Homo sapiens: one gene and its partners. The protein of the gene in region 2 interacts with the protein of the main gene of each other region in a pairwise test. Each region holds a gene or a part of one and is shown on either strand. Other genes may lie near its edges.

Evidence for each region.
Region 1: the proteins of NCKIPSD (region 2) and RBP7 interact in binary tests that used the Homo sapiens proteins (3 or more experiments, as listed by UniProt).
Region 3: the proteins of NCKIPSD (region 2) and LGALS4 interact in binary tests that used the Homo sapiens proteins (3 or more experiments, as listed by UniProt).
Region 4: the proteins of NCKIPSD (region 2) and DMRTB1 interact in a two-hybrid assay, tested with the Homo sapiens proteins (one large-scale study listed by BioGRID).
Region 5: the proteins of NCKIPSD (region 2) and GAS7 interact in binary tests that used the Homo sapiens proteins (3 or more experiments, as listed by UniProt).
Region 6: the proteins of NCKIPSD (region 2) and POLR3C interact in binary tests that used the Homo sapiens proteins (3 or more experiments, as listed by UniProt).
Region 7: the proteins of NCKIPSD (region 2) and CPNE2 interact in binary tests that used the Homo sapiens proteins (3 or more experiments, as listed by UniProt).

What each region holds. Positions count from the first base shown.
Region 1 is NC_000001.11:10,003,728-10,007,227, reverse strand, and holds part of RBP7 (retinoid-binding protein 7), read right to left. Parts: intron 3,136-3,500; exon of another isoform or gene 2,921-3,135; intron 1-2,920. UniProt on the Homo sapiens protein: Intracellular transport of retinol.
Region 2 is NC_000003.12:48,675,916-48,679,415, forward strand, and holds part of NCKIPSD (NCK-interacting protein with SH3 domain), read right to left. Parts: coding exon 3,462-3,500; intron 3,269-3,461; coding exon 3,140-3,268; intron 3,055-3,139; coding exon 2,962-3,054; intron 2,822-2,961; coding exon 2,649-2,821; intron 1-2,648. UniProt on the Homo sapiens protein: Has an important role in stress fiber formation induced by active diaphanous protein homolog 1 (DRF1). Induces microspike formation, in vivo. In vitro, stimulates N-WASP-induced ARP2/3 complex activation in the absence of CDC42.
Region 3 is NC_000019.10:38,802,946-38,806,445, forward strand, and holds part of LGALS4 (galectin-4), read right to left. Parts: intron 951-3,500; coding exon 924-950; intron 836-923; coding exon 797-835; intron 607-796; coding exon 577-606; intron 1-576. UniProt on the Homo sapiens protein: Galectin that binds lactose and a related range of sugars. May be involved in the assembly of adherens junctions.
Region 4 is NC_000001.11:53,458,158-53,462,198, reverse strand, and holds the start of DMRTB1 (doublesex- and mab-3-related transcription factor B1), read right to left. Parts: upstream 2,801-4,041; 5' UTR 2,746-2,800; coding exon 2,169-2,745; intron 727-2,168; coding exon 554-726; intron 1-553.
Region 5 is NC_000017.11:10,192,107-10,195,606, forward strand, and holds part of GAS7 (growth arrest-specific protein 7), read right to left. Parts: intron 1-3,500. UniProt on the Homo sapiens protein: May play a role in promoting maturation and morphological differentiation of cerebellar neurons.
Region 6 is NC_000001.11:145,834,200-145,837,699, reverse strand, and holds part of POLR3C (DNA-directed RNA polymerase III subunit RPC3), read right to left. Parts: intron 1,207-3,500; coding exon 1,126-1,206; intron 886-1,125; coding exon 834-885; intron 683-833; coding exon of another isoform or gene 680-682; exon of another isoform or gene 209-679; intron 165-208; coding exon 104-164; intron 1-103. UniProt on the Homo sapiens protein: DNA-dependent RNA polymerase catalyzes the transcription of DNA into RNA using the four ribonucleoside triphosphates as substrates.
Region 7 is NC_000016.10:57,120,083-57,123,582, reverse strand, and holds part of CPNE2 (copine-2), read right to left. Parts: intron 2,491-3,500; coding exon 2,392-2,490; intron 1,910-2,391; coding exon 1,823-1,909; intron 170-1,822; coding exon 110-169; intron 1-109.

The DNA of each region.
Region 1 (3,500 bases), on a different chromosome or scaffold from region 2:
CACCTGTAATCCCAGCACTTTTGGGAGGCTGAGGAGGGCGGATCACCTGAGGTCAGGAGTTTGAGACCAGCCTGATCAACATGTAGAAACCCCATCTCTACTAAAAATACAAAATTAGCCGGGCATGGTGGCACATACCTGTAATCCCAGCTACTTTGGAGGCTGAAGTAGGAGAATTGCTTGAACCCAGGAGGCGGAGGTTGCAGTGAGCCAAGATCACACCACTGCACTCCAGCCTGAGCAACAGAGCGAGACTCCATCTCAAAAAAAAAGAAAGAAAAAGAAAACCAAAGGGACAGGGCTTAGGCCCCCCAACCCAGCCTCAGTCATAACTCTGCCTTTTTCTGCCTTATGTATTTACACTTTGAATTAAGAGAGCATTTGAACAGTTTCTCAACAAGAATGAAAACAAAACTCAAAAACCACTGGATTCATGTATATACCTCTCTCTCTCTCTCTCTCTATATATATATATACACACACACACACACACACACACACGTATATACTTTTTTTTTTCTTTTTTTTTTTCCGAGACACAGTCTCACTCTGTCGCCCAGGTTGGGGAGAGCAGTGGCACGATTTCAGCTCACTGCAACCTCCACTCCCGGGTTCAAGCAATTCTCTTGCCTCAGTCTCCTGAGTAACTGGAATTACAGGCTTGCATCACCACACCCAGCTATATACTACTATGTATTTATAATTTTTTTCTTTTTTTGAGACAGGATCTCATTCTGTCACCCAGGCTGAAGTGCAGTGGTGCAATCATGGCTCACTGTAGCCTCAACCTTTCAGGCTCAAGTGATTCTCCTATCTCAGCCTCTCGAATAGCTGGGACTACAGGCACATGCCACCATGCCTGGAAATGTTTTAAATATTTTTTTGTAGAGATCAAGTCTCACTATGTTGCCCAGGTTGGTCTCGAACTCTTGGGCTCAAGCAATCCTCTCACCTCAGCCTCCCAAAGTGCTGGGATTACAGACATGAGCCACCCTGCTCGGCTAGAATTCTTAAATAAGCTTTAAAGAAGAGTTCCACAGGGAAACATGGAATGCTAAGAAGATGAAGATCAGGGTTTGGAATCCCAGTTCCACTTACTGCCTTTGAGCATATTATGTAGCTAGAAATAAACACCACTATTTTAAATAATGGCCAGGTGACGTCTCAGCGGGGAGCTGAAAGAAGTAAAGAATCAAGCCACACAGATTTCTGGGAAAATAGTTTAAGGCAGAAATCCAGGGAGCCCTGGGACTCTGAGGAAGGGTGTGCCAGTGTGTTTCGGGAACTCTGAGGAGCCTAGTGTATCTGCCGCAGAATCGGGGAGAGGGAGGAGGAAGGAGAGGAGTTAGAGATGAGACGTGATTCTGCCAGCCGTGGTGGCTCATGCCTGTAATCCCAGCACTTTGGGAGGCAGAGGCAGGTGGATCACCTGAGGTCAGGAGTTCAAAACCAGCCTGGGCAACATGGCAAAACCCCATCTCTACTGAAAAACAAAAATTAGCTGGGCATGGTGGTGCACCCCTGTAATCCCAGCTACTCGGGAGACTGTGGCAGGAGAATTGCTTGAACCCAGGAGGTGGAGGCTGCAGTGAGCCGAGATCGTGCGACTGCACTCCAGCCTGGGCAACAGAGCAAGACTCCGTCTCAAAAAAAAAAAAACCCAAACAACAACAACCAAAAATAAAACAATAGTATAAATGTCCTCATCCTAAGAAAAAATTTTTGTAGCCAGGCACAGTGGCTCATACCTGTAATCCCAACACTTCTGGAGGCCAAGGTGGGAGGATCACTTGAGCCCAGGAGTTCAAGACCAGCCTGGACAACATAGCAAGACCCCATTTCTATAAAAAAATAAAAACAGCTGAGGCTGGGCATGGTGGCTCACACCTGGGTCGGGCTGAGGCAGGAGAATCAGTTGAACCCAGGAGGCGGAGGTTGCAGTGAGCTGAGGTCGAGCCACTGCACTGTAGCCTGGGGACGGAGTAAAACTCCATCTCAAAAACAAACAAATGAACAAACAAACAAATATCTCAAAAAAACAGCTGGGCATAGTGGTACATGCCTGTAGTCTCAGCTGCAAATAAAAAAGCTTGTGTGTGTGTGTTTAAATCTAGAACTCCAGTTTTTAGTTTGAGATGCAATATGATCCAGGCTTTACTGGTTTTCAACAATATTTAAATATTTAAGTATTGAGACCAAAACCTTAAAATCACTTCCTATTATTATTATTTTTTTGAGACAGGGTCTCATTCTGTTGCCCAGGCTGGACTGCAGTGGTGCAATCTCGGCTCACTGCAGCCTTTGCTTCCCAGGCTCGAGAGATCTTCCCACCTCAGCCTCCCAAGTAGCTGGGGCTACAGGCATGTGCCACCACACCTGGCTAATTTTTGAATTTTTCTTTGGTAGAGATGAAGTTTCACCATGTTACTCAGGCTCATTTCCTATTATTAATATGACCAAGCCAAACTTACTGCTGACTTTCCTTAAACCCTATTATGTAAGCAAATCAAAACCCAATAACTTTAGACTAACAATGAGTTTAGAGTTACGCTTTTAAAATCTGTGAGGCGCCGGGCACGGTTGCTCATGCCTGTAATCCCAGCACTTCGGGAGGCCGAGGCGGGCAGACCAACGCGACCAGCCTGACCAATATGGAGAAACCCCGTCTCTACTAAAAATACAAAATTAGCCGGGCATGGTGGCGCATGCCTGTAATCCCAGCTACTCCAGAGGCTGAGGCAGGAGAGTCGCTTGAACCTGGGAGGCAGAGGTTGAGGTGAGTTGAGATTGCACCATTGCACTCCAGCCTGGGCAACAAGAGGGAAACTCCATCTCAAAATCAATCAATCCATCAATCTGGCTGGGCGCAGTGGCTCATGCCTTAATCCCAGCACTTTGGGAGGCAGAGGTGGGCGATCACCTGAGGTCGGGAGTTGGAGACCAGCCTGACCAATATGGAGAAACCCCGTCTCTACTAAAAATACAAAATTAGCTGGGCGTGGTGGGGCATGCCTGCAATCCCAGCTACTCAGGAGGCTGAAGCAGGAGAATTGTTTGAACCGGGGAGACGGAAGTTGCGGTGAGCCGAGATCCCGCCATTGCACTCCAGCCTGGGCAACAAGAGCAAAACTCCATCTAAAAAAAAAAAAAAAAAAAAAAAAATTGTGAGGCAGGCCAGGCGTGGTAGTTCACACCTGTAATCCTAACACTTTGGGAGGCTGAGGAGGGCAGATCACCTGAGGTCAGGAGTTCGAGACCAGCCTGGCCAACATGGCAAAACCCCATCTCTACTAAAAATACAAGAATTAGTCAGGCGTGGTGGGGGGTGCCTGTAATCCCAGCTACTCGGGAGGCTTAGGCAGGAGAATCTCTTGAACCCGGGAGGTGGAGGTTGCAGCAAGCTGAAATCTCGCTACTGCACTCCAGCCTAGGTGACAGAGCAAGAATCCATCTCAAAAAATAAATAAATAAAATAAAATATGTGAGGCAATTTGTTGTTA
Region 2 (3,500 bases):
ACATCCCTCATTTCTCTTTTTACCTTTAATTAGAGAAATAATACCAAAACCTCCTTTAGGCAGCACACCCTGCTAAGTCCCAGCCCTGGGAGTCATACTGAGGTGCCTGCACATCAAACACCAGCGTCTAAGCTATAGACAAATGCAGAGCCATGTGCAGGCCTGAATGTCATTCACCACCGCAAACCTCAAACGGACACACAGCACTGCCTGAGCCTCCCACTGCTTTTCTCTGCTGTGTCACTCTCCCTTAGAGTAGTAATAATGTCCACCTTCTCTGTCTTTGAAACCTACCTACCTTGTCAGCTGGCCTTGTGCTTCATAGAGAATACAGAAGTAATCTTGCAGAAACCCGTCTTTCCCCTCAGTACCCACATCTCACCTGTCCCTACCAGAATGAGCAGCCCTAGCTCCTGTCCATGTGGGCCTGGACCTGAACTCTCCCCTCCTGCCCCATCCACTTGACTCCTGTGGTGGCTCACCATCTCCAACACATCATCCATCTCTCTGTGCTTGCTGGATCATTCCCTCCGGCTCAGAACATGCACCATCATCCGTACCATTTTTGTTTTTGTTTTTTAAAGAGACAAGGTCTGGCTTTGTTGCCCAGGCTGGAGTGCAATGACACAATCATGGCTCAATGCAGCCTTGACCTCCTGGGCTCAAGTAATCTTCCCACTTCAGCCTCCAAAGTAGTTGGAATTACAGGTGCATACCACCATGCCCAGCTAATTTTATTTTCTACTGTGGTCCATCAGGTTATACAGAGGTCTCACTATGTTGCCCAGGCTGATCTTGAACTCATGGACTCAAGTGATCCTCCCACTTCGGCCTCCCAAAGTGCTGGGATTATAGGCGTGAGCCACTGCACCTGGCCAACATCCCCCATCTGTCACCCAAGCTGGAGTGCAGTGGTGTGATCTTGGCTCACAGCAACCTCCACCTCCCGGGTTCAAGCAATTCTCCTGCCTCAGCCTCCCAAGTAGGTGGGATTACAGGCTCCCACCACCATACCCAGCTAATTTTTGTATTTTTCGTATTTTGTATTTTTAGTAGAGACCACTTTGACCAGGCTGGTCTCGAATTCCTGACCTCAAGTGATCCACCCACCTCAGCCTCCCAAAGTGCTGGGATTACAAGCATGAGCCACCGCGCCTGGCCAACATCCCCCATCTTCAAAACACTCTCCCTGGCCAGGCACGGTGGCTCACACCTGTAATCCCAACACTTTGGGAGGCTGAGGCAGGTGGATTGCATGAGGTCAGGAGTTCAAGACCAGCCTGGCCAACATGGCGAAACCCTGTCTCTGCTAAAATATAAAAATTAGCTGGGTGTGGTAGTGGGTGACTGTAATCCCAGCAACTTGGGAGGCTGAGGCAGGAGAATCACTTGAAACCAGGAGGCGGAGGTTACAGTGAGCCACGATCGTGCCACTACACTCCAGCCTTGGCAACAGTGGGAGACAAACAAACAAACAAACAACAACAACAAAAAACCCCCAAAAAAACACTCTCCCTATCCCCATGTCATCTCTCTCCAGCAACCTCCCTTCCATTTTTCTCTTCCCCTTAATAGAAAATTCACAAGAGTTGTCTCCATTTACTGCTTCCAACCCTCCCCTCATTTCTACTCCCCAATAACTTCAAGCTCTCTCAAACTTTCATTCAGACTCTCCTCCTTGCACCCCACTGACACTGCTTGTCAGGCACCACTGACCTCTGTGTGGTGAATCCAATGGCCAACCCCAGTCTCGCTCAGGCTCCTAACGGTATAGAGATGGCTGATCGTCTTCCTCTAAACATGTGGCTTTGGGCTCCTGCTTTCTTGGTTCTCTTCCTGGGTTTCTCCCTAGTTGTTTCAGCTGTGCCCAGGGCTGCAGCCCGAACTTCCCGCTGACCTGCCTATCTATCTCATTTCTGAGGCAATCACATTGTCACAGGCTTCCCATCGTATCTCTGCATAGACCACTCCGAAATGTCTCTCTAGTCTCAACTCATTCCCCACTGCCTCCCTGATGCCCTCGGTACCTGGGTGTCTAGCAGATATCTCCTCATTCTTGACACATTCAAAACACGACTCTCTATTTTCCCCCAAGAAGTTCTCCCAGCCTCCCCAACTTCAAAAATCAGCACTTCATCCATCTAGCTGCTCAAGATAAATCAAGTGGCAAGCCCTGCCAGATCCACTTACTAAACACTCCACAGCTGGCCTCTTCTCGCCACTGCCACTGCCACGACCTATCCCATCCCCACCCCATCCATGCCACCTGGACCACTGAGGCTGCTTCCTCCCTGGCTGGCTTCCACTCTGCTGGCATGCAGTTGATTCCATGTGGGATGTTAATCACATCACATTCCCCGGTCCTGAGATCACAACCTCTTGCAGCAGCCTCCGAGGCTTTGTGTAAACTCCATCCTCCATGCCTCATCTCCCTCCACTCCCTCCTCTCCAGCCTCCTCCAGCCCCACCACCTCCAGATCACCTCATGGCTGGCTCCTTTGGGTCTTGGTGCACCTATCATGGCCTCCTACACTTACCTGGCTCCAGCAGTGGCCTTGCCCCCTCATCTCCACTCAATGTCATGCCCCCCACCATTTTGTTTCAGTTTCCACACAGTGACCCCCGCTGCTGCAGCCACCTCCAGGCACCTTGTCTCCTGGTGACAGGTCTGCGATGTGCCGCACAGTGATGTCAATGAGAGCCATCATGTCTGTGTGGTAGAAGATGGCAGCTGTGGCCGGGCTGCCAAACACGTCCTGCAGGAACTTGAGGACAGAGTGTGGTGGCTGTGGCTCATGTTTGAAGATGCGCACAGGGTCATCTAGGAGGCAGGGGTCATAGCGGTCAGGGTGGACCTTGTGGGGATCCCAGAGTCACCCCAGGGGGTTACGGGAGTCATTGCAGGGGTCATGGAGTCACAGGGCATGGAAGTGGTACCCGCGCAGATTCCCGGGCCCTCACCCCCTCTGTTCAGGAGCAACAACAGCTTCTCGGAGAAGATCTTGACATTGGCGTGTTTGCTCAGGGCAGCCATGATGACATTCTGGTCAGCAGCTAAGGAAGGACATGGGTATAGACAGGGTGCTGAGCCTGAGAGCCACCATGTGCTCAGCCACCGCCCAGCCAGGCCCCACCCCACCTGGCAGGTGCAGGTTGAGAGCCAGAAGCAGGTTCACGCAGAGGTCCGGCAGCTGCTCTGTGGTGTCCAAGGGCAGCCCATCCTCGACGATGTTCAGTAGGAACTGGGCGAAAGGCGTGCCCAGGTGCTCTGGGAGAGGGGCGCACAGAAGTCTGCAGCCCCATTCCCCTCCGACCCCCGCACCACCCACCCTTCCTGGCTTTCTGTGAGCCTTGGGGATAGCCTCTCCCTGCTAGGCTGTGTAGTCAGCAGGTCCCAGGCCCTCGGGCAATGGGCCCTGGCTTAGGACCTGTGATCAGCTGGTCGGTTACTGCATTCTTACCATAGTGTGCATAGGGCACTGCCTCTCCCATGGAGAAGA
Region 3 (3,500 bases), on a different chromosome or scaffold from region 2:
GGGATTATAGGCATGAGCCACCGTGTCTGGCCAAGAATAAATTTTCTTTTTCTTTTCTTTTTCTTTTTTTTTTTTTTTTTTTTTTTTTGAGATGGAGTCTCGTTCTGTCACCAGGTTGGAGTACTGTGGCACGATCCCGGCTCACTGCAACCTCCGACTCCCTGGTTCAAGCGATTCTCCTGCCTCAGCTTCCTGAGTAGCTGGGATTACAGGCGCGCGCCACCATGCCCAGCTAATTTTTGTATTTTTAGTAGAGACAGAGTTTCACTATGCTGGCCAGGATGGTCTCGATCGATCTCCTGACCTCGTGATCTGTCCGCCTTGGCATCCCAAAGTGCTGGGATTACAGGCGTGAGCCACCATGTCCAGCCCAAGAACAAATTTTCTGAGAGGTCCCACTCCTCCTGGAAAACATCCCCAATTCCTTCTGCTCCCTAAACCTGACCACGAACTCTATCTACCCTTCCCCTACCTCCCACCCCAAAACCCTCAGCCCACTCCCTTTCTGGCTGTCTCAGATTCCCTGGAGATCCGTGCCCCCTCCCCACCATCCATCTCTGTTTCCCCAAGCCATACCGGGTTGAAGGTTGGGGGTCCTTCCATGGTCTGTGAAGTGAGGAAGAAGCGATATTATTCTCCAAGAGTCGACAGATATCTATGACACACCCATTAGACTCCGGCGTTTCTCTAGGTGCTGGGTTAGTACACCTTGGGCTGCAACCCCTCTTAGCTCCCCCTACCCCAATTCTCACCATTCCCACTCCTCACCCGGGGCCCTCCCAGCCCTCCCACTCACGGGCAGGCTGTTCAGCTGTTGATGGCAATGTCCGGGACCCTGAACGATGGACAGAAGGCAGGAAGGGTGAGAGGGGCTGAGGGACCCCACTAGGGAGGAAGACCCTCACCTATCAGCAAGTACTTACAGGGTAAGGTGGCATCATCGGGGGTCCCTGTGGGCACAGAAAGAGAAAGCGGTTATGAGAGGGTCCCCAGATTTGCGACTGAAAGATGTCGAGAGTGCCTGCCCTGGGGTGGCCCACCACCACCACCACTATGCCAGAGAACTCTGGCATCAAAGGGTGGCACCCCGATCACAGATTCACGGAGAGGGGCACCCCATGTTCTGGGATCGCTGATGCCCAGTGAGTCACCCCAAAGCTTTAGGACAATGCTTGGTCCATTTTGTTCTCTGTGCCCTTCCCCTTGCTGTCTTCCTGCTGTCCCGGGGCCCTCACTCGCTGATCTTGATCTCAGTTTCTGCCTCTGTCCCTGTGTCTCTGCCTCTCTCTCTGTCTTGGCCACACCTCAGCGCAGGGGCTTCCTTCTGCCAAACACTTTTATTTATTTATTTGAGATGGAATTTCGCTCTTGTTGCCCAGGGTGCCGTGCAGTGGCACGATCTCTGCTCACCTCAACCTCTGCCTCCTGGGTTCAAGTGATTCTCCTGCCTCAGCCTCCGGTGTAGCTGGGATTACAAGCATGCGCCACCACGCCCAGCTAATTTTGTATTTTTAATAGAGATGGGGTTTCTCCATGTTGGTCAGGCTGGTCTCAAACTCCCGACCTCAGGTGATCCGCTCGCCTCACCCTCCCAAGTCTAACACCTTTAACTTTTACTCTCTCTCTTTCTCTCTGTTACCTTCTCTTTTCTCCTCCTTGTAATTAACTCCATTCTGCCTTGACTTCTATTCTCAGCCAGCTATTCTGAAGGCCTTTTAAAAGTAGCTTTATATAGCCGGGCGTGGTGGCAGGTGCCTGTAATCACAGCTACTTGGGAGGCTGAGGAAGAATTCCTTAAACCTGGGAGGCAGAGGGTGCAGTGAGCTGAGATCATGCCACTGCACTCCAACCTGGGCCACAGAGCAAGACTCCATCTAAAAAAAAAACAAAAAACAAAAAACAAACAAACAAATAAACGTAGCTTTATAAGCCGGGGGCTGTGGCTCACGCCTGTAATCTCAGGACTTTGGGAGGCTGAGGTGGGTGGATCACCTGAGGTCAGGAGTTCAAGACCAGCCTGGACAACATAGGAAAATTCCTCCCCTCTGTCTTTACAAAAAATTTAAAAACTAGCTGGGGCTGGTGGTGCGTGCCTGTAGTCCCAGCTACTCAGGAGACTGAGGTGGGAGGATCACTTGAACCCAGGAAGTCAAGAATACAGTAGGCTGTGATTGCACCACCACACTCCAGCCTGGGTGACAGAGCCAGACCCTGCCTCAAAAATAATAATAATAATAATAATAATAATAATAATAATAATAATATTGATAAACTCAATTTAATTGTATGTTATTTATTTTTAATGATTGTGTTAAGCAACCTCTAGGGAATTCATTCACTATCGTGTGTTCTTTGCCTTTCCTTATCCTCACTTTCTGACTCACCTTACACACTTCCTCCTACTCCAGGAAGCACTTCCTTCCTGACCCATGACTAGTCAAGCCCTTCCTGTAGGCTCCCAAACCTCCTGTATACTCCATATCCCAGCCCCTGCCCCTCTGCCTGTGCCCTCCCTATCACAGACCTGACCATTTCTGGGCTGTCACTCTCTGATGCCATGTCTGTGAGCCCAGTGAGGTCAGGGCCCAGAGATATCTCAGTCATTCCTGTCTCCAGCCCTGGGCCTGACCCCTCTGCCTGCCTCCACCCACCCTCCTGTCCTGGCCCTGATCCCTCTGTCTGGGCCCAAACCCAACTGCAACCCTTCAGCCAGGGCCTCCCCATCCCGGCCTTTATCCCTTGCAGTGATGGGTCTGTCTTCCCAGTGGGATCCCTTGATCATCACTGGGCTCTTGGCATAACTCAGCAGAGGGAGATGCTTGGGAAATAAATGAATGTGGAATGCGCTGGGCACCATGGCTCACACCTGTAATCCCAGCACTCTGGGAGACTGTAGCCAGCAGATCACTTGAGGCCAGGAGTTCCAGACCAGCCTGGCCAACATGGTGAAACCCCGTCTCTACTAAAAATACAAAAATTAGCCAGATGTGATGGTGGGTGCCTGTAATCCCAGCTACTTGGGAGGCTGAGGCAGGAGAATTGCTTAAAACTGGGAGGCAGAGGTTGCAGTGAGCCAGAATCACACCACTGTACTCCAGCCTGGGAGACAGAGCAAGACTCCATCTCAAAAAGAAAAAATAGACCAACTGCGGTGGCTCACGCCTGTAATCCCAGCACTTTGGGAAGTCGAGGTGGGTGGATCATGAGGTAAGGAGATCGAGACCATCTTGGCTAACACAGTGAAACCCTGTCTCTACTAAAAATACAAAAAAATTAGCCGGGCGTGGTGGCAGGCTCCTGTAGTCCCAGCTATTTGGGAGGCTGAGGCAGGAGAATGGCGTGAACCTGGGAGGCGGAGCTTGCAGTGAGCCAAGATCGCGCCACTGCACTCCAACCTGGGCGACAGAGTGAGACTCCGTCTCAAAAAAAAAAGAAAAAAAGAAAAAAAGAAAAAAAATGAATGTGGAACTGAATTTAGAAAGAAAGGACGCAAGAAGGGA
Region 4 (4,041 bases), on a different chromosome or scaffold from region 2:
CCTTTATTAATCTTATAAAAGGATTAAATTTCATTCTTTCAACAGGTATTTCCTAAGGTGTCAAGTGTTTGGGGGAAGGTTTCCGTATTTTTCATGACTCCGCTCAAATGCCACCTCCTCCTGAAAGCCCTCTGCAGTCTCAAGTGTGCTATACCTGTGGGCAGGGAGCCTACCTCTGGTCCTGGCTCTGCCCTAAATTTTGTGGTCCCAGGAAGGTGATATGCCCTTTCTGGAGTCCAGCAAAATGAAGGGCCCTTCTAGCATCAGCATCAGTCAAGGAAGGGGTCATCCTGAACGCTCAGAGCCTTTCAGCCCACTGCCCTGAAAAGCACAGGCCATAGCCCAAGCCGAGTGGTGCAGACTGGTCCACACGTGTGCTCCCAGAGACACACACACTGTGCCTGGGCAGTGCCTAGTCCTCCACCAGCACTCGGGGGCTGGCATGGCGTGGGCACAGTTTATGACAGCTGGCTTCCTGGGACTGAGGATCCATCAAGGCAGCAGGGGCAGACTGGGTGGAGGAAGCTGGCAAGAAGTGAGGGGTGGGACTCACCAAGCCTCCGCCTTGGTACTGGCTGCGGGACACATGCCGGAAGCCCTGCTGCAGGGGGACGCCAGGAGGGGCGTCCAGGTAGCCCAGCGGGAACGGGCAGTAGGGGTGCATGCTGGAGCCACCAGGGTACTCAGGGCCCAGTGCACGGTCCGGGTTGATGTTCAGAGGGCGCACTAAAGAACGCAAGCAAGGAGGGAAGTGTTAGACACCGCTGGGAAAAGCATCCGCAGGGCGGCCCAGGGCGGCGGGGTCATCAGCGCTGCCGTCCAAGCACAGAAAGCCCACCCCGCACTTCCTTCCGCTGGGCCCTCACTGCATCTCCATCCTCCAGCCAGCCCCACTGCTCTTGGAAAGTCCTCAGCACGGCCATCAAGCCCGCTGTGGGCCGGGGCCGCCTCCAGACCTCCCCGCTGCCCCACACACCGTCAGCCCGCACTCTGCCTCTCTGAGGCCTCAGTGCCGAGCTCCTCCTCCTCCTCCGGGTCACAGTGAACCCGGCCATGGCTCAAGCCCTGGACACTGATTTGTGTGACTCTTTGATCAACCCTGTCCCTCCCACAAGGACAAGGTCCTTGAGGGCAAGAAATGTGACCCGCGTCCTCCATCACGAATGCCTGGCTCATGGTTCGGCTCAGCCCTGCTTGTCTGTTGAGATGGAAAAAAGAAAGGTGGCTTCTCCTAGATCTGCAGTTTCAGGCCTGTGACCCTGTCAGATGGGACGTTCCCTGGGGACCTAGATTTTCCTGGAAAGTCAGGGGGGCGGGACGAGCCTGCGGGAGCCTCCGGACCAGTGCCCTGGCACACAGAGGGCAGGAGCTTGTCCAGCGTGACCCGGGCCCCCGCCTCGGCCTGAGCCCGTCCCACCACACCACCACGGGGGAGACACCAGGAAAACGCGTCCGCACCAAACCCCGGGGCTTCTAAAGCTTCAAATGTACATGTGACTTGAAACTACTTCAATACCAAAAGCTCCAAGGCACAGGGAACAATGTAATTTATGTACAAGGTGAAGGGAGAAAAGAAAGGCAACATCTTTACTGACCAACTGTTCTCGTGTGTGGAGTAAAGAAGCAGGCTCCCCTCACCTGCACGTGGGGAAACGGAGGGAAGAGGTGCGCAGGCGCACTGGGCCAGGGCGGAGCTGAGGGGAGGAGCCTCCCGACCGCGAACCGGGAGGGAAGAGTGCGCAGGCGTCCTTGCGCTAACGTGCCGGCAGGAAAATTCTGTTATTCTGGAGGAGGAGCCTCCAGCCCAAGGAAATGGCGGGAAGAGGTGCGCAAGAGCAGTAGGACTCGGCTCCTCGAAGCCTCCCCCGGAGGAGGAAGCACTGCTAAGTCGACTGGACGCCATTTTGTTCTTGCATGCCGGAATGGCACAAACTACAGCTAAATGTTAAAAGCCCTCTGAACCGCCCATTCCTTTCTGTTTCTCGTTTCCTTTTTGCGAAAAGTTACCCAATCCAAATCCCTGTTCGAAGAAGGGTTTCTCAAAGCGGAAGGTCCGTTACCCGTGGAAAAACTTCTCTCCACCCCGAACCCCTATGCCAGCTCCCCATCCGGGCTGGCCTGGGCTGCCAGCTCCGGGAGTCGACCGCGGGACCAAGGCCACGACTTACCAAAGTCGGTGAACAGTGGGCCGGGCACGGTCCGCATCGGCCTGCGCAGGTCTAGGGGGCCAGGGTAGCCACTGCCTGCGGCCTCCGCCCCAAAAGGGGGTCCCGCAAGGCTGGGCATCGCCACGGCGGCTCGCTCGCTCGGCTCCACGTGGCTGCGGCCGCCCAGAACCGGCTGGAGGGCTCTCGGGCCGGGGTTCCGGCCCCGCGGGGGCTGCTCGAAGAAGCAAGCGGCCGCGCGGCCCTCGGGTCCCGGGTCGGCGTCTCCGGAGGGAGTCCCCGGGGACAGCGGGCGGAGGCTCGCGGCCGGGACGGGGACGGGGGCGGGGGCGGCGGCCGCAGCCCCGGAGGCCTGCTTGGGCCCCTGCGCACACAGGGCCGCCTCCTGCTCCTCCTCGGCGGCCTGCGTCTTGAGCACCTTCTGCGCGGCCATGATCTTCTGGCGCTCGGAGATCAGGTAGCACTTCTCGCAGAGGCACTGCTTCCAGCGGCATTTGCCCGCGTGTCCCTTGACGGGCACCAGGAAGCCATGGTTCCTGCATCTCGAGCACTTGGGGGTGCGCACCATTTTGTCGGCCATTGGCAGGGTCAGCCTTCGTAACACAACCACCACCTCTGGGAGCTGCAGAGCAAGTGGCGCTGGGATGAGCCGCGCCCCACAAGTCCCTCGTTCTGGGGACATTGGATACACTTGTAACAAAGCGGCTCGCAGTGTGTCCCGGGAACTGCAGCAGGAACCTTGCATTTTCCCTCCTTTTGGGGGGTGCACAGTTTGGAGAGTTTCTGTGCTTTGGGTAATTAGATGCAATGGATTGGGTTGAATAAATTCTTCATGGGATGCTATTGCATGTATGTCATTTAGCTTATCTGAAGTCTTAGGCATGTAATTTTCCAAACTCTGTTCCCGCCACCGACGGAAGGTATTTGTAACTTTATGAAAGGCGGAGTGATATTCAACGGTCCACAAATTTAAAACTCGGGAGGAATGTAGCTCTCGGTGTAGAAAAATACTGTAAGAGGCAAACTGTATTTCTTCTCCCCAAAGCTGCTCCTTCTGTGGCAGTTCACTTCTCTGCCCTGCAGAGATGCTTCCAGGATATTCCAGAATATTCTCAAGAGTTCAGTGCAGTGTGATGGTTGCTCAAGGGTATGCCCTTACAGTAATTCCCGTTTCTTGAGAGTCTTGATGTAGGAATGCATTTCTGGATGTTGATGCCTTCCAAAGTGAGCATACTTAGAATATTTTAAAGTAAAATAGACAGAATATTGTAGCACTAAGCCTGGCATAGTGTCCTGTGCCTGTAGCCCTAGCTACTCGTGAGGATCACTTGAGCCCAGTAGTTGGAGACCAACCTGAGCAACATAGCGAGACTCCTCTTTCTAAAAAATTAAATAAAAAATTCTGCAAGACCCCTCTTTCTAAAAAATTAAATTAAAAAAAATTTCTAGCACTAGCTTCAGTGATTGCTTAACCTCATCATGAACTTCGTTATCCTTGTAAAACAACCCAAATCTTGGGACATCTGAAAAGTTAGCACAAACGTCATAGTTTACCCGAGGGCATTAATTGTTTTTTTTTGTTTTTTTTTTTTTTTTTGAGACAGAGTCTTGCTTTGTCACCCAGGCTGTAGTGCAGTGGCAGGATCTTGGCTCACTGCAACCTCCGCCTCCCAGGTTCAAGCGATTCTCCTGCCTCAGCCTCCTGAGTAGCTTGGATTACAGGCGCCCGCCACCATGCCCAGCTAATTTTTGTATTTTTAGTAGAGACGGGGTTTTCGCCATGTTGGCCAGGCTGGTCTTGAACTCCCGATCTCAGGTGATCCACCGGCCTCGGCCTCCCAATGTGCTGGGATTACGGGCGTGAGCCACCGCGTCC
Region 5 (3,500 bases), on a different chromosome or scaffold from region 2:
ATATACCTACTGCAACTAAACTTTCACAACGTCACAACATGTTCTGGTCAGCCAAGGAAAAGCCAGAGAGATCTGCCAGCCGCCACTTCTTCTTCTCGCCATAGGCATAAATACCACCCCAGAAGCCTCGCCATTGCAGGGAGACAGAGAAATATACTAATTTTGCATTTAAGTACAGAGGAATCCCTCCTGACATTTTGTTAGAAAGCCTGTCATGTGTCGCCTTGCTGCTGTGAGTAATAAGACAGCACAGTCCCCTGGGCTGGCCTGATAATAGTCAAAATACCTTACATGTACACAAGGTTTCCTGGTTTACCAAAAAACATTTTCTTTCACCAGCGAAGTGAGGATCAGTATCCGTGTTCACAGACAAGGTCTACCACACCATCAGAAAAAAGCTGGGCTTTTCCAGACTGAGAAGAGTACGTGAAGGTCAGCCTCTCATTCATGTTTCTAGGTGGTAACAGACATCAGGGATCCACAGAGCGGTGAACAGATGTCAGGGATTCCCGCCGACTTGTTGCTAAGGGAACTTTTGTGAAAATGCCCTGAATCCACTCAATCCATAAGCCTTGCTCATTGCTTTAAAGTCCTGTGGGGTAGCCACTGACCAGTCCAGCACACAAGTGTGACAAAAGAGGTGGTTCCTTCTGAGCTGAGGCTGACAGAGTGGTGGGCCAAAGGTCATTTTCTAACACCAGGAGCTACAAATACTGGCCACAGCCCCCATACCAAGGAGGAGGGTGATTTAGTGAAGATGTCAGAAAGCACGCTGGTCTTTTCAGTCACAATTACCCACCCCTCCGAGCCACAAGCCCTAATTGCACCTTTTGTGAACAGAGTTGATGACTGACTGAAAAATACTAGCATGAGGGACAAGGTCACACTCATTTTGGGTGATTTTCATGTTGCAGAAAGAAAGGAAAAGGCTCTGTATTAAAATCAATTTGTGTAATATAGCAAACATCTATTAGATGTCAGGGAGCTCAGATCCACTATGTCTATGAATCATCAGCACTGAACAGCCCTGGCCTAAAAAAAGCTGGACTGGTATGTCAATGGCTTAGTGGACAGGCCCAGAGCCAGGCAAATCTGATTTCAAATTCCAGCTGCATCGTTTATCATGTGGCCTTTAGAAAGAAACCTCTAGAGTCAAAAAAAAAAAAAAAAAACCCTCCAAGGATTGCGATAGAGGTAGAACTGCCAAGTCTCTGCATTTTACCTCCCTCTTGGGGTTCTCTCTCTCATCAGTCTGGCCCAGCACTACCTCCTCACTAATGGATCATCTGTCCCATGTATGTTCTCCCTAGCCTTCTGAGGGAGCTAGTCTGCAATATGGCCCTCGATGAACCACGCCTCCCTCATAACCGCACCTGTACCCACCTCCCTTCCAAATTGACTCTGGACAGACCTGTGACTACTTTCCCAATAGAATGTGGCAGAAACGATATGCCAGTTCTGGGCCCAGACCTTAAGAGGGCCTGGCAATGTATGCCTTTGCATTCTTAGAAGCCAGCTACCACATAACTCCTGAAGAGAAAGGCCATGTGGAAAGGCCCTGGAGAATGAAACACTACATGGAGAAAGGCGCCACATGGAAGAACATCAAAGCACCAGACAGGTGAGTGAAGATGACATTTTGGAGGCTGCAGTCTAGTTGAGCCTCCAAGACTCTGCCCCAGCCACCATCTGATTGCAACTGCATGAGAGACACTGAGACAGACCAGCAGAAGAACCACCCAGCTGAGCCCCGTCAATCCACAAAACCATGCCAGATAATAAGAAATTGTTGCTTTGAAACACTAAATCTTGGAGTGGCTTGTTACATGGCAATAGATAAAACATCATTCCTTAATTATCCATAGCACAGCCCACTCTCTCCCACAGACACTCCTTATCAACTCCTGCAGCACAACTGCATGAACCCAAAATGGGAGAACAAAGGGTAGAGTGAAGAAAATCAAGTTTAACGGTGACCCTCAGCAGCCATTCTAGTTGTGCCAGCAAACAGTGTCATATTCTGTTAGTAACCCAGAAAGAAAGGAAAAGGCTCTTTTTAGGAAAGAGAAAAGGTCCAGATTATCCAGCCAGATCCTGGATTCTAAGAATACCACCTAGTTCAAAGAAAGCTCTATTTTGTTTGCATTCCAATCCCATTGTCCCCCAGAATTATTTCCCAAAAGCTCTGGGAAGTTTTGTAGATGCCTTACAACATTCCCCAGGTCCCTAATTTCTTCTCTCCATTCAAGGAAAGTACAGGCCACAGGAATTCCTGGACCCTATTAAACCCTCCAACCACTGACCTGTCCAGCCACTGGGCTTGTCCTGGTACCATGTCTTTCTCTCCAAATTTTCCCCAGGATGGAGATCTAGGATTCTCTATCCACCTTCCCCAGGAGCTATTTCTCAGCCTTGATGTACCCTAGAAAGCTGGTGGAAATATTCCCACATGTGGGGTTCCCAGGTCTATGGAGGCAATCTCAGGCCTAGCTTGGAGCTGGCAGAACATGCTCCCACAGCTCCTATCTCTGGTCTCAGGTCTCTTCCTCTACCATATCTCTCAAATGATGTTAAAAAGACTTCTCGGCCGGGCACAGTGGCTCACGCCTGTAATCCCAGCACTTTGGGAGGCCGAGGCGGGTGGATCACAAGGTGAGGAGATCGAGACCATGCTGGCTAACACGGCGAAACCTCACCTCTACTCAAAATACAACTGCACTCCAGCCTGAGCAACAGTGCGAGACTCTGTCTCAAAAAAAAAAAAAAAAAAAAAAAAAGACTTCTTAATTCCTGTCCCTCGTCATAGCAGAAGAAACCCTCAGGAAAGATTTTTCTAGTTGATTTTATCTAATAACCAGCTGTGGGCCTTGGCTGTAAGGCCTATTCCTTTTCTGGAGGTAGGTGTTTCCCTCTGCCCATCCTTTGAAGAGCTGCACCACCCCGAGTAGGAAGAACCCTTGTGGCCAGAGTCCTTGGGCCTACCAGAGACCTCTACACTTCCCTGCCTGTGCTGAGGTTTTCCTGGAAGCTGCTCTCTGGAAGCCAAGTATGTGCTATACCATTTCCTTGGAGTCTTGACCAAAGAGATTGCCCCAAAAACCAAGACCTCCTCCAAGCTGGCCTCCTCCCAAGGGCTAGCTGGCCACTGGGTCAGATCTGGTGACTCTCTTGGAGTTAGCTCCCAACTCCCCTCCCCCGTGTATGCTTCCTGCAAAGGCTGGGTCTCTCGGTTCCCCTTGCTTCATCTGAACAAGGAAGATCTCCTTGGGAAGTATCCAGTGTGCACACAGTATTCAGTGCCTCCCTCCCCTCCACCAAGATGGGGTTTCCTAGTATCACTCTTTCTATCAGGGTGAAAGTTCCGCTGGAGTAGGGAGCACATTAGAGATGCCATATTCATCTGTGTACCCACAATCCCATCCCTAGGCCAGGAGGCTAGTACAGTCCATCTGTCTGTACTTGTTTCTCCAACAGCTGCCCTGGCCTTCTGAACTCCATGC
Region 6 (3,500 bases), on a different chromosome or scaffold from region 2:
AGTATGCCAAGGTGTGGTTATATTGGTGGCTTACATAATGATCAAATTACTTCACTGGGGATAGGAAGTATGTGATCCCAAACCCAACCAGTGTCCCCCTTACCTCTCCTGTACGACGGACTCCAGAGTGGCTGTGGCTAGGGATGCTAATGCCTTATGGAGGTCTTTATGTAGAGAATTAAGGTCACTCAGTAATGTTTTGGCCTAGTTATTGTGATCTGAGTTTTATTCCTAAGTTTCTAATTTATAATTAAATTTTAAATGCTATTTTGTTTTTCATGTTATAATTTATGGTTTCAGTCATGGTACATAAATATTCCAAAACTTTAATACAAGTGTTTAAGTAAGGGTTTTGCTTAACTAAAATTTGGTTGATTAAAAGTCCTTTTTCCTTTTCTTTTTTGAGACAGGGTCACCCAGGTTGGAGTACAGTGGCATGATCTCAGCTTACTGCAACGTCTGTCTCCTGGGCTCTAGCGATCCTCCCACCTCAGCCTCCTGAGGAGCTGGACTACAAGCATGCATCGTTACAGCTGGCTAGTTTTTGTATTTTTGGTAGAGATGGGGTTTTGCCATGTTGCTTAGCTGATCTTGAACTCCTGGGTTCATGCAATTCACCTGCCTCAGCCTCCCAAAGTCCACCATGCCTGGCCTCTTTTTACTTCATCATCAATGCAGTTCACTGAAAATTCATAGAAAAATTTATTTAACAATTACTTCAATTTTCTAATTTATTTAGTATAATAAACATTACCAAATCTTTCTTTCCTAAGGCACCATTCTGATTTATAGGTCAGGCTGCCTGACTCTAAGGAAATAACTGGTAAGGATACTGATGACATACATTCCTCCACCACTGTCGCCAGACTTTCCAACAAACTCTAGCTATTAAGAAAAAGAGAGAGTGTTAACTGAACGGAAAGTCCAGTGATTCTGTTTCCAATGGAACAAATCTGACCAAAAGTCTGCAGCAGGTAGCCCTCCTATCAAATGATGTGGAGAAATTGTCTGGGCTGGCTAGGTAGAGAATAACTCTGCAGGAGGATGACACTAGGTATCAGTGCAGAAATAAATTATCAACAGTACAGGCTAAAGAAAAAAGAAAAAAAGCAAAAACAGACTTACTGGATCATCTGCCAGCAGAGTGAGATACTGATCAAGAACTTGCTTAGAGATGTTATAGCCAACAGGTAGGGATCTGAAGATCTATGGAGCAAAGGACACTTAAAATGGGTTTGGGAACTTAGAACTCCTGACCTTACTGAAATAAAGATGTTTTAGGCCGGGCACAGTGGCTAAGGCCTGTAATCCGAACACTTTGGGAGGCTGAGGCAGGTGGATCACTTTGGGTCAAGAGTTGGAGACCAGCCTGACCAATATGGTGAAACCCCGTCTCTAGTAAAAATACAGAATTAGCTGGACGTGGTGGCGCATGCCTGTAATCCCAGCTATTTGGGAGGCTGAGGCAGGAGAACTGCTTGAACCTGGGAGGCAGAGGTTGCAGTGAGCCGAGATTGCGCCAATGGACTCCAGCCTGGGCTACAAGGGCGAAACTCCGTCTCAAAAAAAAAAAAAAAAAAGTTTTAATTTTAGTTACCACAAAACTGTCCAAAAATATTCACAGCAGGATTGTTTGTAAGAGTAAAAAACTAGAAACACCCAAATGACCAGTACCGAGTACACTAAAATAAAATATAGCACGGCCATTAAGTGGAATATGATACAGTCATTATGAAGAGTGAGACAAATCTACAGAAACTAACATGAAAGGAAGTTTTACATACACTGTCATATAAAAAATCAAGTTATAGAACAGTATGACTAGGTTGGGTGTGGTGGATCACGACTTTGTAATGCCAGCACTTTGAGAGGCTGAGGTGGGAGGATCACTTGATGTCAGGAGTTCGAGACCAGCCTGGCCAACACAGTGAAACCCTGTCTCTACTAAAAATACAAAAATTAGCCTGGCGTGGTGGCATGTGCCTGTGATCTCAGCTACTCGGAAGGATGAGCAGGAGAATGCCTTGAACCCAGGAGGCGGAGGTTGCAGTGAGCTGAGATTGCGCTACTGCACTCCAGCCTGGGTGAAAGAGTACAAGACTCTGTCACAAAAAAACAAAAACAAACAAACAAAACCCAACCAAAAAGCCATATGAATAGTCCCATTTTGGGGTTAAAAAATACATATACCCACATATATGTTAGAGTATGCAAGGTCTGAATAAAGATATATACCAAACTTTTTTTTTTTTTTTGAGACAGAGTCTCACTCTGTTTCCCAGGCTAGAGTGCAGTGGTGCGATCTCAGCTCACTGCAACCTCCCATTCCCGGGTTCAAGCGATTCTCCTGCCTCAGCCTCCCAAGTAGCTGGGATTACAGGCGCCCATCACCATGCCTGGCTAATTTCTGTAATTTTAGTAGAGATGAGGTTTCACCATGTTGGACTATGCTGGTCTTGAACTCCTCAGGTGATCTGCCTGCCTCGGCCACCCAAAGTACTGGGATTACGGGTGTGAGCTGCTGCGTCCGGCCTTTTTTTTTTTTTTTTTTTTTTGAAATAGGGTTTTGCTCTGTTGTTTAAGCTGGAGTGCAGTGGCATGATCATAGTTGACTGCAACCTCAACTCTTGGGCTCAAGCAATCCTCCTGCCTCAGCCTCTCGAATAGCTGTGACTACAGGCATATGGCACCACACCCAACTAATTTTTTAAAAAAATTTTTTGTAGAGACGGGGGTCTTGTCATGTTGCCCAGGTTGGTCTTCAACTCCTGGCCTCAAGGGATCCTTCTGCCTCAACCTCCCAAAGTTCTAGGATTACAAGTGTGAGTCACTGCACCTGGCCATAGAACTTTAAAATAAACAATATAAAAATATAGGAATATTTAAACACAGTCATGCACCATATAACATTTTAGTCAACAACGGACCGTGTGCAGCTGTGGTCCCATATTATACTGGAGCTGAAAAATTCCTACTGCTTTGTGATGTCATAGCTGTTGTAACATCATAGCACAATGCCGTTGTGAAACACATTACTCACATGTGTGGTGAGGCTGGAGTGCAGTGGTATGATCTTGGCTCACTGCAACCTCTGCCTCCTGGGTTCAAGCAATTCTCCTGCCTCAGCCTCCCGAGTAGCTGGGACCACAGGCGCATGCCACCATGCCCGGCTAATTTTTTTTTTTTTTTTTGTATTTTAGTAGATGGGTTTCACCATGTTGCCCAGGCTGGTCTCAAACGCCTGAGCTCAGGCAACCCACCAGCCTGGGCCTCCCAAAGTGCTAGGATTACAGGCGTGAGCCACCCCGCTCAGCCTGTTACTGGTTTTTAATAAATACAGTGTAGCCTGAGCGTGTAGACCATCACATTCACATTAATCTGCCATTCATTCACTAACTCCCACAGGGCAACTTTTAGTCCTGAAAGCTCCATTCATGTTAAGTGCACTAAACAGGTGTGGTTTTTAATTTTTCATACCATATTTTTACTGTACCTTTTCT
Region 7 (3,500 bases), on a different chromosome or scaffold from region 2:
CTTCCTGAAGTCTACCCTAAGTCCCTCTGGCTGCACTAGTGGCCCAAGTCTTCAGGGAGGACCCTCACTGGGATGGGGGTGCAGAGGGAGCCAGCGGGGAGAGCCTTACGGTGAACATGAGCTGGCAGCCTCCCAGGATGTAGTCAAGGAAGGAGTAGTCTCGGTTTATCTGGAAGAAAGCGGATGAGTCAGTGGGTCCCCTTGACTTGGTCACACTCCCCATGGGGGAGTTGTTGCTCTATGTCCTGCAACCTCAGTAGGGACAAGGAGGTCAAAAAAAGCTGATGGGCCTGATCTAATTACAACAAAACCCAAATCTCTCTATAACAAAGCCTTCAGTGCAATGGTTCCTAATGGGTGGGGGACTCACAGAGACCCCCACACCCCACAGATACACAGACACATGCTGGTTCCAGGCAGGGTGCCAGGGCCCAGTGTCAGTTACCTGACACAGAGTGTCTCAATTTGTCACTGTTAGGTACTTACCTTCTCCTGGCCCTTATTAATCTACCTTTTTAACAAAGAGAAAGAGCAGGCCTCCAGCTCAAGGCCTTCCTCTAGAAGTTGTTTTGATGGTCTTTGTCTCTTTTTGGCAAAGAAGGCAGATCTTTTAATTTTGGTAGAGTTCTAATAATCTCTTTCTAAATAAATGTATTTAAGTTAAAAAAAAAAAAAAAGAGAAAAGAAACAGGCCAGGTATAGTGGCTCATTCCTGTAATCCTAGCAGTTTGGGAGGCCAAGGCAGGCAAATCACTTGAGGTCAGGAGTTCAAGACCAGCCTGGTCGACATAATGAAACCCCATCTCTACTAAAAACACAAAAATTAGCCAGGCGTAGTGGCATGCACCTGTAATCCCAGCTATTTGGGAGGCTGAGGCAGGAGAATCCCTTGAACCTGGAAGGCGGAGGTTGCAGTGAGCTGAGATCACGCCACTGCACTCCAGCCTGGGCAACACAGTGAGACTCTGTCTCAAAAACAAAAACAAAAAACAATAATACAGGGAAGAAAGACTGATTCAAAAAAATAAGTAAGGCAGGTGCCAGAAATTGTGAAAAGTGATGTGAATGATGGAAACTTCAGAAACAAGGACCATCCATCACAAGGCTGCAACCTGACATCTTGACCTTTAACGGAGTGCTTTTTTGTCGTGACACCACTGAATGTTCGTGTAAACCCTAGCCAGACGAGGCTCCAAATAAGGTGGGAGTCTGGGATCCACCTGCTGGTGGAGAGCAGCGGCCAGACTCCTGAGCTGTCAGGCCCTGAGCCCAGGTCTCTTGCTCTCCTGCCCCAGGCTGCCTTCCTTAATGTTCTGCCAGATCCAGCAGTTATTTGCCCACCAGGTCTTCTGGCCCCCACCCACAGCCTGGCCACTGCTGACATGAACTTCATTGCCTTTCTGGGCCTCAGTGGCCCCGGCTGTACCATGGGAGTCACAGTGACGCTGATGCCAGAGAGGACAGGGTGTCCCCACCCAATGTCCTCTGCCCCTTGCATGCCCACCGTGGGCGGCAGCAACTCGCAATGACAATTCTCCCACCAGGACAGGCCCTGGAAGGTCAGCTCGTGCCTTCCCTGGCCTCCACACAGGAATGTGAGAGAAGAGTAACCCTGGACATGCTCTGCCTCGTTAATATCTCCATTCCACAGATGAGGAGACTGAGGCCTGGTGAGGTGAAGCTCAGAAGGCCATAGGGCCAGGATGTGGCAGAGCCGGGATTTGAACACAGGCCTCGCTGGCTCCAGATCCAGTGCTCTGTCTGTCCCTTCTGTGTGGCCTGAAACCTGGCCCCTGGCTCGTGCTTGCCCACGCTGGTTCACCTTGCAGGATCGCAGGATGATGATGCCCGAGTTTTTATAGTTCTTCTTCTTCCTCTGCTTCTTGGGGTTGATGCACTCGAACTCCAGCTGGGCAACGCAAAAGAAAGAGACACTCACCTCGGGGCTTCTTTGGAAACAGATCCTCCTCCTTGGCCCTAGAATCCCTTCCACAGGCTTGACAATGGGGGCAGCATGCTTCCTCCAGGGAGCCTCCCAGGATGTCCACACCCAAAAATGGTAGCAGGATCAGCATCTGCCTCCCTCCTCCCCAGATAACGCACCCCCAAACTGTCCAGCTGAGGGCCCAACATCACGGAATGACTTAAATGGATAGCTCCTGACTGCTCACTATATGCTGGGCACTTCGCCTGCATCATCTCATTCAATCCCCACCCAAATCCTCTGCCCCCATTGACAGATGGAGAAACTGAGTCTTAGATTGAATGCCTTGCTCAAGGTCATGCAGCCAGAAGGGGGATCTCAGCCCCAGGCTGCCTGACCCAAGACCCGGTGCCCCTTCCCCCAGCCCTGCTGAGGTCTTGGGGTTACAGTACACGTGCCCATCTCACCGGGACGCTGTCTCGAGCCTCACACATCTGTGACACTGAGGTCTGGAACTCGCCGATGAAGTCATGGCCCCCGTCATTGTCATAGTCGTAGCACATGACCTGGGGTGGGTTCAGCACGGTCACCCCAGAGCTGTCCCCCAAGAGGTGCTCTCCAGCCCCTCTCAACTCCCCAAGCAAACCCTCTGTCTTCTGTTTGGGTAGTGCCTCTCCTCAGCATCTGCCTAGCTGGCCTGGATAGCTCCTGAACTGCCTCCTGCAGGAAGACTTCTGTGATTGCTGGGAAAAGGAGAAAGTGTGTCTGCCCCACTGATGGAGGCTGTACCCTCTAGTGCAGGCAACTCCACTCCTTATACACCTGGCAAATGGCTCCCCCTCCACCTCGGGTTGTGACCCACCCAGCTTATGGCCTGGGGCCCTCTCTAGACATATTTTTTTCTGAGATGAGCACAGAAATCACAGCTTTATATGCTGTCTGAGCTGCTATGGCCCTCCTAGGAGGAAGGCAGGGATTATTGTTCCCATCCCACTGATGGGTAAACTGAGGCCCTGAAAGAGATGTACCTGCCCAAAGTCTCACAGCAGCAGTAGCAGACCCAGTACTAGAACCTAAGATTCCTGGTATCCTACTTGGGAATCTCTGTCCTGACCTAGCTGTCTCCCCAGTCCCATCTGCTCTCAGACCCAGCCCCTGGGGACCAAGAGCTTTTATTTTTTATTTATTTGATTTTATTTTATAATTTTTTTTTTTTTTTGAGACGGTCTCTACTAAAGACCGTGAGAGGGTGGGTGAGAGGCCTCACGTGAGAGGCCAGGGTGGTCTCAATCTCCTGACATCGTGATCCACCCACCTTGGCCTCCCAAAGTGCTGGGATTACAGGCATGAGCCACCGCGCCCGGCCTATAACTTTTTTTTTTTTTTTTGAGACAGAATCTTGCTCTGTTACCCATGCTGGAGTGCAGTGGCTCAATCTGGGCTCTGCAACCTCCGCCTCCCACATTCAAGTGATTCTCCTGCCTCAGGCTCCTGAGTAGCTGGGACTACAGGCGTGCACCGCCATGCTCGGCTAATTTTTGTATTTTTAGTAGAGATGGGGTTTTCCCATGTTGGC